Linked DNA regions of Homo sapiens: region 2 is linked to region 1. Evidence: fine-mapped expression QTL. A gene starts in region 1. The other region holds a variant in brackets. All regions are shown on one strand. Distances are between the middles of the regions. Region 1 holds the start of DENND6B (DENN domain containing 6B). Region 2 overlaps PPP6R2 (protein phosphatase 6 regulatory subunit 2).

Region 1 (5,366 bases):
ATGTGGAGCAAAGGAAACATAAACTGTTGGTAGGAATGTTTCCATTTTCTTTTTTTATCTTTTTTTGAGACAAAGTCTCGCTCTGTCACACAGGCTGGAGTGCAGTGGCTTGATCTCGGCTCACTGCAACCTCCACCTCCCAGGTTCAAGCGATCTCATGCCTTAGCCTCCTGAGTAGCTAGGATCACAGGTGACCGCCACCATGCCTGGCTAATTTTTGTATTTTTTAGTAGAGACAGGTTTTCACCATGTCGGCCAGGTTGGTCTCAAACTCCTGACCTCAGGTGATCCACTAGCCTCAGCCTCCCAAAGTGCTGGGATTACAGGCATGAGCCACCTCGCCTGGCCTGGTAGGAATGTTTTTAAATGTATGGCTGCTTTGGGGAAAGCTAAACATATACCCAGGTTATGCCTCAGCAATTTGGTTTCTATGCACGCCCAAGAGAAATGAAAATGAGCCCAGGCAGCACGAGACCCCATCTCCACAAAAACGAACAAAAAATAAAAATAAAAAAATAATGGGGTATGGCGGCGTGTGCCTGTAGCCTCAGCTACCTAGGAGACTGAGTGGCAGGATAGCTTGAGCCAGGAGATCGAGGCTGCAGTGAGCTGCAATGGGCCACTGCACTCCATCCTGGGAGAGAGTGAGACCTTTCCTCTAAAAATAAAAATAAAAGCTATACAGTCGGGCCTGGCATAGTGGCTCACGCCTGTAATCTCAACACTTTGGGAGGCCGAGGCGGGCAGATCACCTGAGCTCAGGAGTTCGAGACCAGCCTGGCCAAAATGGTGAAACCGTTTCTACCAAAAATACAGAAATTAGCCTGGCGTGGTGGTGCACGCCTGTAATTCCAGCTACTCGGGAGGCTGAGGCAGGAGAATCGCTCGAACCCAGTAGGCAGAGGTTGCAGTGAGCCAAGACCATGCCATTGCACTCCTGCCTGGGCAACAAGAGCAACATTCTGTCTCAAAAAAAACAACAGAAACAAACAAACAAAAAACAATACGGCCATGTGCTACTCAACGGTGAAGCTATGTCCTGAGAAATGTGTCATTAGGCGATTTTGTTATGTGACAAACCTAGATGGGACAGCCTACCCCACACCTAGGCCAGATGATCCGAACAACACGTGGTAATCTTTTATTTTTTTATTTTTGAGATGGAGTCTCACTCTGTCGCCCAGGCTGGAGTGCAATGGCGACATCTCAGCTCACTGCAAGCTTCGCCTCCGGGGTTCAAACGATTCTCCTGCCTCAGCCTCCCCAATAGCTGGGGTTACGGCGCTCGCCAGCCACCACGCCCGGCTAATTTTTGTATTTTCAGTAGAGACAGGGTTTCACCAGGTTGGTCTCGATTTCCTGGATTCGTGATCCGCCACCCCACCTCGGCCTCCCAAAGCGGTGAGATTACAGGCGTGAGCCACCGCGTCTGGCCAACACGTGGTAATCTGAAGGGACCACCACAGTATATGCGGCCCGCCTTCCACGGAAACGTCATGAGGCCCACGACTCAAAGGCGTGCCTCATTAAGTTACCGACAGCCCCAAACTCGCCCTTCCACGCCGGGCCTCAAGGTGCTCTGTGGACCACAGCGGGGCCCGGGGCCCTCGCGAGGGAGGGAAGAGTTCGCTCCAGGTCCCCGCGATTCCCCCGGAAAGTGAAACTGCAGAGGTGTTGCGTGGACACCCGCGGTCAGACACGACCCCAGGCCGCGCGGGCCCCAGAGGAAGCGAGCGCGAGTCCGCGGTGGTGGCTGGGCGCTCAGTGAGGACGCCATTCCGCCACGAAAACGCCCGCGACGCCGCTGGCCCCTGCGCGGTGGGGCGAGGTAGGCTGGCCGGACCTGCGAAGCCCGACGAGCCCGGCGCCGGCTGGCTGCAGCTTGCTCTGCCTCCCTGGCCTGGCCCCGAGGCTCCCGCGAGCCGGGATCCGCGAACACCGGGGCCGAACCGACTCTCTCGGGCCTCAGACGGCGTGGACCCTGGAAGGCCCCAGTTCGGCCGCTTCCCCGGAAGTCCCCCAGTGGGCTCCGGCCGCTCTGGCCCGCGCGCGTCCGGCTCGCTGGTGCCCTGGGCGGCGCCCGGCCGCTGGCGCTTCTCGGGCGCTAGGGGGCGCGCGGCCGCGCGGGAGCCGCACTGGGCCGCGGCGGCCGCTCGACTGTTCTGAGGAGCGGCCCGGACGCGCGCCGCCCCCGCCCGCGTTTCCCCGGCAACCCGCGGCCGCCGCCATGGACGCGCTGTTGGGCACAGGGCCTCGCCGGGCTCGCGGCTGCCTGGGCGCGGCTGGACCCACGTCTTCAGGTCGCGCGGCGCGGACCCCGGCGGCGCCCTGGGCGCGCTTCTCCGCCTGGCTGGAGTGTGTGTGCGTGGTCACCTTCGACCTGGAGCTGGGCCAGGCGCTGGAGGTGAGCGGGCGCGAGCGCGGGCGCGGGCGGGTGGGCAGGGCTGCGCCTCTCGGGGCCAGTCCCGCCTCGCTTGGGGCCCTCGGCCGCCCCGCACTCTCCCTGGCCTTCGGCCGCCGCCTCCTGGAGGGGCCTCTTCTCCGGGCTCCAGAAGCGCTCCCCAGGCCGAGGAGGGAAGGCGAGCTGCTCGGAGTCGGATCTTGTCTTCACATTGGGATGGAGCATTTTGCATAACCTAAGTGGTACTCTTTCGATTTTTCCCAGTAAATGTCTCACATCTCCCCCCTCCATTCCCCACCGGAGCAGTGACACCTTCATCCCCTCAGTGGCTCCCGCCAGAGTCCCGGGCTTACCCTCCGCTCCGCATCCCATCTCTGGGCATAGGCGAGGCTGACGGCTCCTTCTGCAACAAAGGTCTCGGATCCGTTCCTTTGCTGCCATCACTGATGTCATCCCCACCCCAGCTGCACCCCAGAGTTCAACCTTTGTGGCTCTCCTGCTTAAAACCCTGCAGCGCCTCCTTGTTCACCTAGCATCAGATCCAGACCCCATGGGCCCCGTCCCTCCACCTGCGTCTTGTGGTGTTCTTGCTCGTGGGGGTCTGTTCATCGGCTGTGCCCATGGGCTTTCGATGTGGTCTTTCTGCTGCCTGCAGGCCTCCACTCACCTACCCACACAGGCAGCCTCCTTTCCTCCAGGGAGGCCCCGCAGGATGATCTTCTCTGTGTCCTGTGTAACACACACCAGGGAGCTGACCAGCACAGGGGAGGCCCACCTGCAGATGGAGGGAGGCTTCCCCGCGCTGGCGCAAGGAACCTCGTGAGGGGTAGTGAGCTCTCTATTACCGCAGGTGTCCAAGATCAGGCCAAATCATCATCATCAGGAAAGCCAGGCAGCGCGTCTCTGTGGTTGGGAGATGCTTTCTAAGGCCCTGCTGAACTCCAAGAGGCCATGAGAAGCATATAGTCTTCTAAACAGAAAAGCATTAACTCTAGCACTCTCTGGAGCCCCTCCCACCACACACGGTCCCCAGCAGGTGCACAGCCTCAAACAGCATCACTGGGTGGGGGCTGAGTACCAAGAAGTGTGGTGACCTGCCCAGGGTTGAAAACCTTTCTTAGTTCAATACTGTTGCCCAGATTGTTCCCCACAAAATCACAAAAGAAGTTAAGAGGTTCCTGGCCGGACGCGGTGACTCATGCCTGTAATCCCAGCACTTTGAGAGGCCGAGGCAGGCAGATCACAAGGTCAGCAGTTTGAGACCATCCTGGCCAACATGGTGAAACCACATCTCCACTAAAAATACAGAAATTAGCCGGGCGAGGTGGCACACTCCTGTAGTCCTAGCTACTCGGGAGACTGAGGAGGAGAATGGCTTGAACCCGGGAGGGGGAGGTTGCAGTGAGCAGAGATTGCACCATTGCGCTCCAGCTTGGGCGACAAAGTGAGACTCCATCTCAAAAAAAAAAAAAAAAAAAAAGGAGGTTCCTCTGTTCCTTAAGACATTCTCGTGTTATTTTCTAAAACCCATTCGGAAAGTTATTTCTGAGCTGTTGAAGGCTGTGTGTGCTTGGACTCCTGAGCTTTTGCTGGGGATGCTCAGCTCGGACTAGGGGCATGGTCAGCTGGCAGAGTGTTGGGGACCCAGGTCCATGAGCGAAACCCTCCATAGCAATGATCTGGGCACCTGCAGATCACTGAGTCTGTGCAGAAACCTGGCAGTGGATCCACCGGGGCCTGAGCACATGACTCTTGCCTTTCCTCCCTCACCTGGAAGTCACAGGGAAGATCGAGGTCGTTTTAGTCACTTACAGACTTAGGGAGCACCCACTGTGCAACTCAGTCACAGCTCAGCCCAGCTAAGCACTGCAAAGCCCCAGGACTGTGCTTGGTTCTGCGATATGGAAGGAAGACTCTAGTTGGGATGCATGCAGCTCAGAGGAAGGAATGGGCTTAGGTAAATAAGTCTTGGATGCTGAGAAGAGACAGGGGAGGGGGTCCTGTTTCAGGTAACCCCTCTCCCAAAATGCCAACATAAGCAAAAGGCAAGGAGCTGGTGATTCAGTTACTCATTCAGTAAATCACTTTGAAGGCTGGGCATGGTGGCTCACGCCTGTAATCCTAGCACTTTGGGAGGCCGAGGCGGACAGATCACCTGAGTTCAGGAGTTTGAGACCAGCCTGACCAACACAGAGAAACCCTGTCTCTACTAAAAATACAAAATTAGCCGGGCGTGGTGGCGCACGCCTGTAATCCCAGCTACTCAGGAAGCTGAGGCAGGCAAATCGCTTGAACCCAGGAGGCGGAGGTTGTGGTGAGCCGAGATCGCGCCATGGCACTCCAGCCTGGGCAACAAGAGTGAAACTCTGTCTCAAAAAACAAAACCGTAGATCACATTGAGCAGCTATCACCAGCCCAGCCCCACAATACTGGTGCCCAGCATGTAAGTGAGTAGACAAGGCTCTTGCCCTTTAGGAGTTCACACTATGTGCCAGTGATATGGAGAGTAAGTGGTTCAGAGTCCATAGTGCTCACAGGACTCCCCCTTAGCCCTCACAGGATACCCCCGCAACTGTACGCATGGGAGCATCATGGAAATGAGTGCAGTGCAGCCTGCTTGAGAGATGAGGGGTCCAGCTTGAGAGGGGCCAGCAGGGCTGTGGGGTGACAAGGGATCTGGCTTGTGAGGGGCTGGGCAGGACTGTGGGGTGACTGGAGTGTACAGGTCAGCTTAGGAAAGGGCCTGGCTCCGCCTTCTCAGCTCTTGAAAACTCACCTCTTGGGCTGGGCGCAGTGGTCCTGCCTATAATCCAGCCCTTTAGGAGGCCGAGGCAGGAGGATCACTTGAGGCCAGGTGTTCCAGACTAGCCTAGGAAACATAGTGAGACCCTGTCTCTACCAAAATTAAAAATAAATTAGCCAGGTGTGGTGGCATGCACCTGTAGTTATAGCTACTCAGGAGGCT
Region 2 (5,366 bases), 36 kb before region 1:
GACAAACAGGGAATAAAGAATACACCGTACTTCTGCTGTAAGCCTCTACACGATGACACATTAAGTGGGACCCGCACACAATACAACTTTGGCACTCTTTCCTCATCCCCACCTGATTCCATAACCGTACCAAAACTATCTAAATATGCTGAGTGTCTCCCCCAGCTAACACCTTTGCACACACAGACCCTCTGACTGGAATGCCTTCTTCCCACTTTCTCTATTTGACAAACTCTTGCCTGATCTTCCTATCTGAAGACCATCTATAGCTACCTTTGTCAACTTTCTGAGTCCCTCCTCAGTGCTCTCACAAGACTGTTTATATCTTTCAGAGAATTATAACTCAGTTTTAAATATTTTTATTTTTAATTATGAAATTTTTTAAATATATTGAAGTCTAGAGAAGGACATAATATCCATGTGATGAGACTTAACAAACACTAACATTTGTTTGTATGTGCCTCCTTCTTAAACAAATGTTTCTACGACACTGAGGAACCCAGGAACTCAAGCAATCCCCTTCTTGAGAGACAATCACTAACTTGCAGTATCCGTAATTTCATTATTTTATGACTTATATACCTAAAAATGGTACATTGCTTTAAATACATATTTCAAGTATGACACTTCTCTCATATACCAAGTTCCCATTTATACAGGGTCCTTTTCCAGGCTATCCATTCCACTGGCCTCACAATAAGTCTGAAAACCTGGGCCAGGCACGGTGACTCAAGCCTGTAATCCCAGCACTTTGGGAGGCCGAGGTGGGCAGATCACCTGAGGTCAGGAGTTTGAGACCAGCCTGGTTAACATGGTGCAACCCCGTCTCTACTAAAAATACAAAAAAACTAGCCAGACGTGGTGGTGCATGCCTGTAATCCCAGCTACTCGGGAGGCTTAGGCAGGAGAATCGCCTGAACCCGGGAGGCAAAGGTTGCAGTGGGCCGAGATTGCGCCACTGTACTCCAGCCTGGGCGACAAGAGCAAAAACTCCGTCTCAAAAAAAAAAAAAAAAAGTTTGAAAATCTGTTACAGCAACTCCCTTCTTATTCTTTTTCACACTTGTCTTGGTTATTCTTCACCCTTTACTTTAAAATTTTCTAGTAAAATAAGTAAATGGAACCAAATTGATGAGGAAACAGCAGAGACTGGATCCTGAAACAAGTCCCCCTGGAGCACGCTGAATGGTCAGATGAGCCCAGCTCTAGTAGGACTCCAGGTCCGTCCGTAAGAGCAGAAGCAGGAGAGAGATTGAAAGGCTCATGAGCAGCAGCTGCGGACAGCGGAGCTGGCTTCTCCATTCTGCAGGTTGCCAGCTCCTGACTCTACCATATGCCCTCAAGAAGAAGAGCCAAGAAACACAGTGAAAAGGTGGAGAATCTTCCTCCGGAAAAAGCTTTGCATGAGCATTGGAAGCACTCAGGCCTAGGCTAACTCCAGACACCAGGAATATGAAAGGGAAAAAAAGGAAGCTTGCTCTACTCAGAGATGAACATACTAGAGCACTATAATTCTGAAGTAAAAGCCTTTCTTAACTGTGGCAATGGAGAAGTGCCCAGTCACCCGACTGCTGATTCTCCTGCCACATCCTAAAGCACAGATTGCAACTTAAAGGCCTGCAGAACAAGGCAAGATGCTAAGTGTAAGGAAGGAAGCTGGCGGAAAAGACAGCAGCAGAGTGAAGGCTGCAGCACAAGAGGGCATGGAAGGGAGCAGAGACAGGCCCACCCCAGCAATCACAGCCGTGCAAGGACACAGGGCACCAGCACATGTCTGCTTCTACAAGAAGTGACAAAAATCCACATTTTTTTTAAATCCCCACATCTTCATGTTTATAATTAACTTTTGAACACTATGTGGGCCAATAAAATGCAGGACAAGCTAAATACATCCTCAGGCCACCAGTGGCTAAGGAGCCAGTCTTCAATGACTGCTCTGCCAGAGAGCCAGCCACCTTCTTGCCCTCCACTGACCCGGTGTCTTCGTATGCTTAGGCGGCCAGAA[T/C]ACAACACCTTCAACAGCAGACAATTATTCCTCACAGTTCTGGGGCCTAGAAGTCCAAGGTCAAGGTGCTGGCCAATTAGGTTGCTGAGAAAGCCTGTCTTCCCTGCCCTTAGACCATTGCCTTCTCACTGTGTCCTCACAGCAGGGAGGGTGAGAGCAAGCTCTCTGGTGTATCTTTGTATGAGGGTGTCAGTCCCATCTTGAGAGCCCCACCTGGTGACCTCACGGAACCTAATTATCTCCTAAAGGCCTCCCTCCAAATACCACTAAATGGAACTTAGGATTTCAACATAGGAATCTGGGGTGGACACGACACAATTCAGTCCCTAGCACCCTGCCTGTCTTTGAGCCCTTCCACCAACTAAGGATGGCATGAGGCCTCCATGCAGAGCACGTGCTCTGCAACGGGAACACAGTAAGGACTCAGCGACGGGCTGAGAAGAGCTGACGTCGCTGCACATTCCAAGGTCTTCAAGCTCCCAAGGTAGCAATTCTCCTCCCAGCAGCGGAGGCCCAGCTGGTCTCCCACCAAAGTCTCAGAAAGGTGACTTTAACACACAGCCCCGAGAGATGGCTGTCAGGCCCACGCCAGGCTCAGAAGAGTATCCTCCTGGCTGTTACATAGGATGAAGGCTCAAGTGAAAACTGAAAACCTCCATCTGCTCAACACTAGCAACCATGGCAGCTCTCCCAGTTAAGGACAGAGATGGCCAGCATTATGAGGATGCACCTTCCTCATCACCAGTGCTAAGGGCCCTAGCCCCGACTCCTCCCCTTCCTGGAGCCCAATGCAGACCCTCCAGGCAGCCAGAGAACCTCTTGAGCCAGGGAGGCCTGGCCACATCAGGGCAGTCCCTGACCACAAAGGTCCAGGCATAAAGTCCAGTTTCCATCACTGAGCAGCTCTGGAACCTTGGGCAAGTGCCTGCTGCATGTGCACTGCAGGTAAAAGTGTTGACTCCAAGACAGAGAACAGTCATGACTGCCACCACTGCCCTAGGACAGTGACTAATACCAGATGCCTCCAAGGGGCCTAGAGAGAAAAACAATCAACTGCAGGAAACCAAAGGCCCACCACAGCAAGGCCCTAGTCCGCACCTACGCGCACCACAAGACAGACAGCGCACCTATGCTATATTTGTTGTCAATAATATAATCCTGGGAAAACAAGTACCAGAACAAAGAGTCAAAGGCAGACGAGCAGGGCATACTCTGGGTCCTGGGTCAAAGGAAGACAAGCAGGGCATACTCTGGGCTGAGACTGTTGAAGGAAAAATAGCTGAAGGCAAGCTAGATAAAAAGCATTGTCAAACAAGCAGAAAACAGCACCAAAAAGCAGCAGGGAGGAAACTGGGGCAGTGAACAAAGCTCAAGTCCAAACAAGACGCACAGAAGAAGTAAGAGCCAACAAACTGCCTTTAGGGTTCCAGCAGCCACAGGAGAGTGGCAGTAGCTGGCTTCATCCGTACACTCAAAGCTCAAAGCCTAATGCAGCAGGTAGTTTCCTACCAACCCCCAGTTCACAAGTAAAAAGCAGAGGTCTCAGTAATTACATGACTAGCGCAACGTCATGGGCTAGTAAGTATCCGTTCTAGAACTTGAACCCAGGTTTGGCTGAGAGCAAAGCCCATGTTCTCAGTCTCCATATGATAACCAGATTCTGACTGAGTCAATGAAGAAAAAAAGGAGTTATCAAAGGAAATCCAAAAGGAATGACCAAGATTGAGGGTGATGACAGGAAGGCACTACCCAGGACCGAACTAGTCCAGGAAGGGCATCACAGCAAAGAGCTGAGAAAGGGTCAGAGCAGAGTTCCACAGGCTTAGAGATGGTGGGATCATGAGGAGAGAGAAGTCAAGTCTTCAAAGTGGAGCAGTCAACAGGATGATGAGTGACAGTCAAATTCTTGAAGAGCTCCTAAAGGTCTGACTGTCCACAGTAGCCCAGAGAGAGGACACTGGGCATCAGTCAGTTCATTCAGCAACAAATGTAGCTAATAATGGGACAAACCTAGTCATGCCCCAAGGAACCTGACGTCTAGCAGAGAAAACAGATACTGACAGACTCTACACAGTGCCAAACCTGAGAGAGACTGGTGTGAGCAGCAACAGTGGGCAGAAGCACAGGTCAGCTCCCTGGCTCACACCCAATAGGTGTCCTATCTGTGAGCTCTGACAGTGTAGCTAACTGCCAGCTTCTCTGTGGCTCCTCGGTAAACAGGGATAAAAATACAGATCTCCTGGGCCAGGAATGGTGCCTCACACCTATAATCCCCATGCTTTGGGAGGTCCAGGCAGGAGGATTGCTTGAAGCCAGGAGTTCAAGACCAGCCTGAGCAACACAGAGAGACCCCATCTCTAAAAACCTTTTTTTAAATTAGCCAGGTGTGGTGGCATGTACTTGCAGTCCTAGCAACTCAGGAAACTGAGGCAGGAGGGTCTCTTATGCCTGAGAGTTCAAGACTGCAGTGAGTCATGATCATGTGTTCATACCACTTGCACTTCCAAGTGGGCAGCAGAGGAGACCCTGTCTCTCTTAAAAAAAAAAAAAAAAAAGGCTGAGCATGGTGGCTCACGCCTATAATCCCAGCACTTTGGGAGGCCAAGGCAGGCAGATCATGAGGTCAAGAGATCAAGACCATCCTGGCCAACACGGTGAAGCCCCATCTCTACTAAAAATACAAAAATCAGCCAGGCGTGGTGGCACGCACCTGTAGTCCCAGCTACTTGGGAGGCTGAGGCAGGAGAATCGCTTGAACCCAGGAGATGGAGGTTGCAGTGAGCCGACATTGTGCCATTGCATTCCAGCCTCCATGACAGAGCAAGAGTCCATCTCAAAAAAAAAAAAAAGTGCTGAAAGGGAAAAAAAAAGCTGTTAACCTAGAATTCTGTATCAAGCAAAAATATCCTTTGAAAACAAAAATATAAATAAAGACATTTTAAGACAAACAAAAGCTGAGGGAATTTGTCCTTATCATACCCACATTACAAGAAATCCTGAAGGAAAATAATCCCGGATAGAAATCTGATCTGTAAAAGAAATGAAGAATTTCCCAACTCATTCTATGGGTCCCAGTATTACCTTGATACCAAAACCAAAGACATCAAAAGAAAAGAAAGTCACACACAAATATTTCTTAAGAAGGTAGATGTAAAAAGCCTCAACAAAACACTACCAAACCAAATCCAACCACATATAAAAAGGATTCTACACCATACCACAGGGGATTTAATCCCAAGAATGCAAGCTTGCTTTAACACCCGAAAATCAATTAATTTAACATATCACATGTGGATAAAGGACAAAACACAAGTGATCATCTCAACATACACAGAAAAAGCATCTGACAAAATATAAACCTT

The links. PIP is the estimated chance that this variant, and not a neighbour inherited with it, causes the effect. A credible set is the group of variants that fine-mapping cannot tell apart.
Region 2: its variant is the best candidate, but not a certain one, in a credible set for the expression of DENND6B in whole blood (TOPMed, PIP 0.80).

What each region holds. Positions count from the first base shown.
Region 1 is chr22:50,323,850-50,329,215 of GRCh38, reverse strand. It overlaps DENND6B (DENN domain containing 6B), which reads left to right and starts at 2,204. Exons shown (of 20, transcript NM_001001794.4): 1 at 2,204-2,404. The coding sequence starts at 2,228. RefSeq lists a silencer at 1,816-2,455.
Region 2 is chr22:50,359,544-50,364,909 of GRCh38, reverse strand. All of the region lies in intron 1 of PPP6R2 (protein phosphatase 6 regulatory subunit 2), which reads right to left. Among named protein-coding and RNA genes, the nearest start is that of PPP6R2, 19 kb to the right of the region's middle. RefSeq lists an enhancer at 3,407-3,456. The variant T/C (reference allele first, on the strand shown) is at 2,005.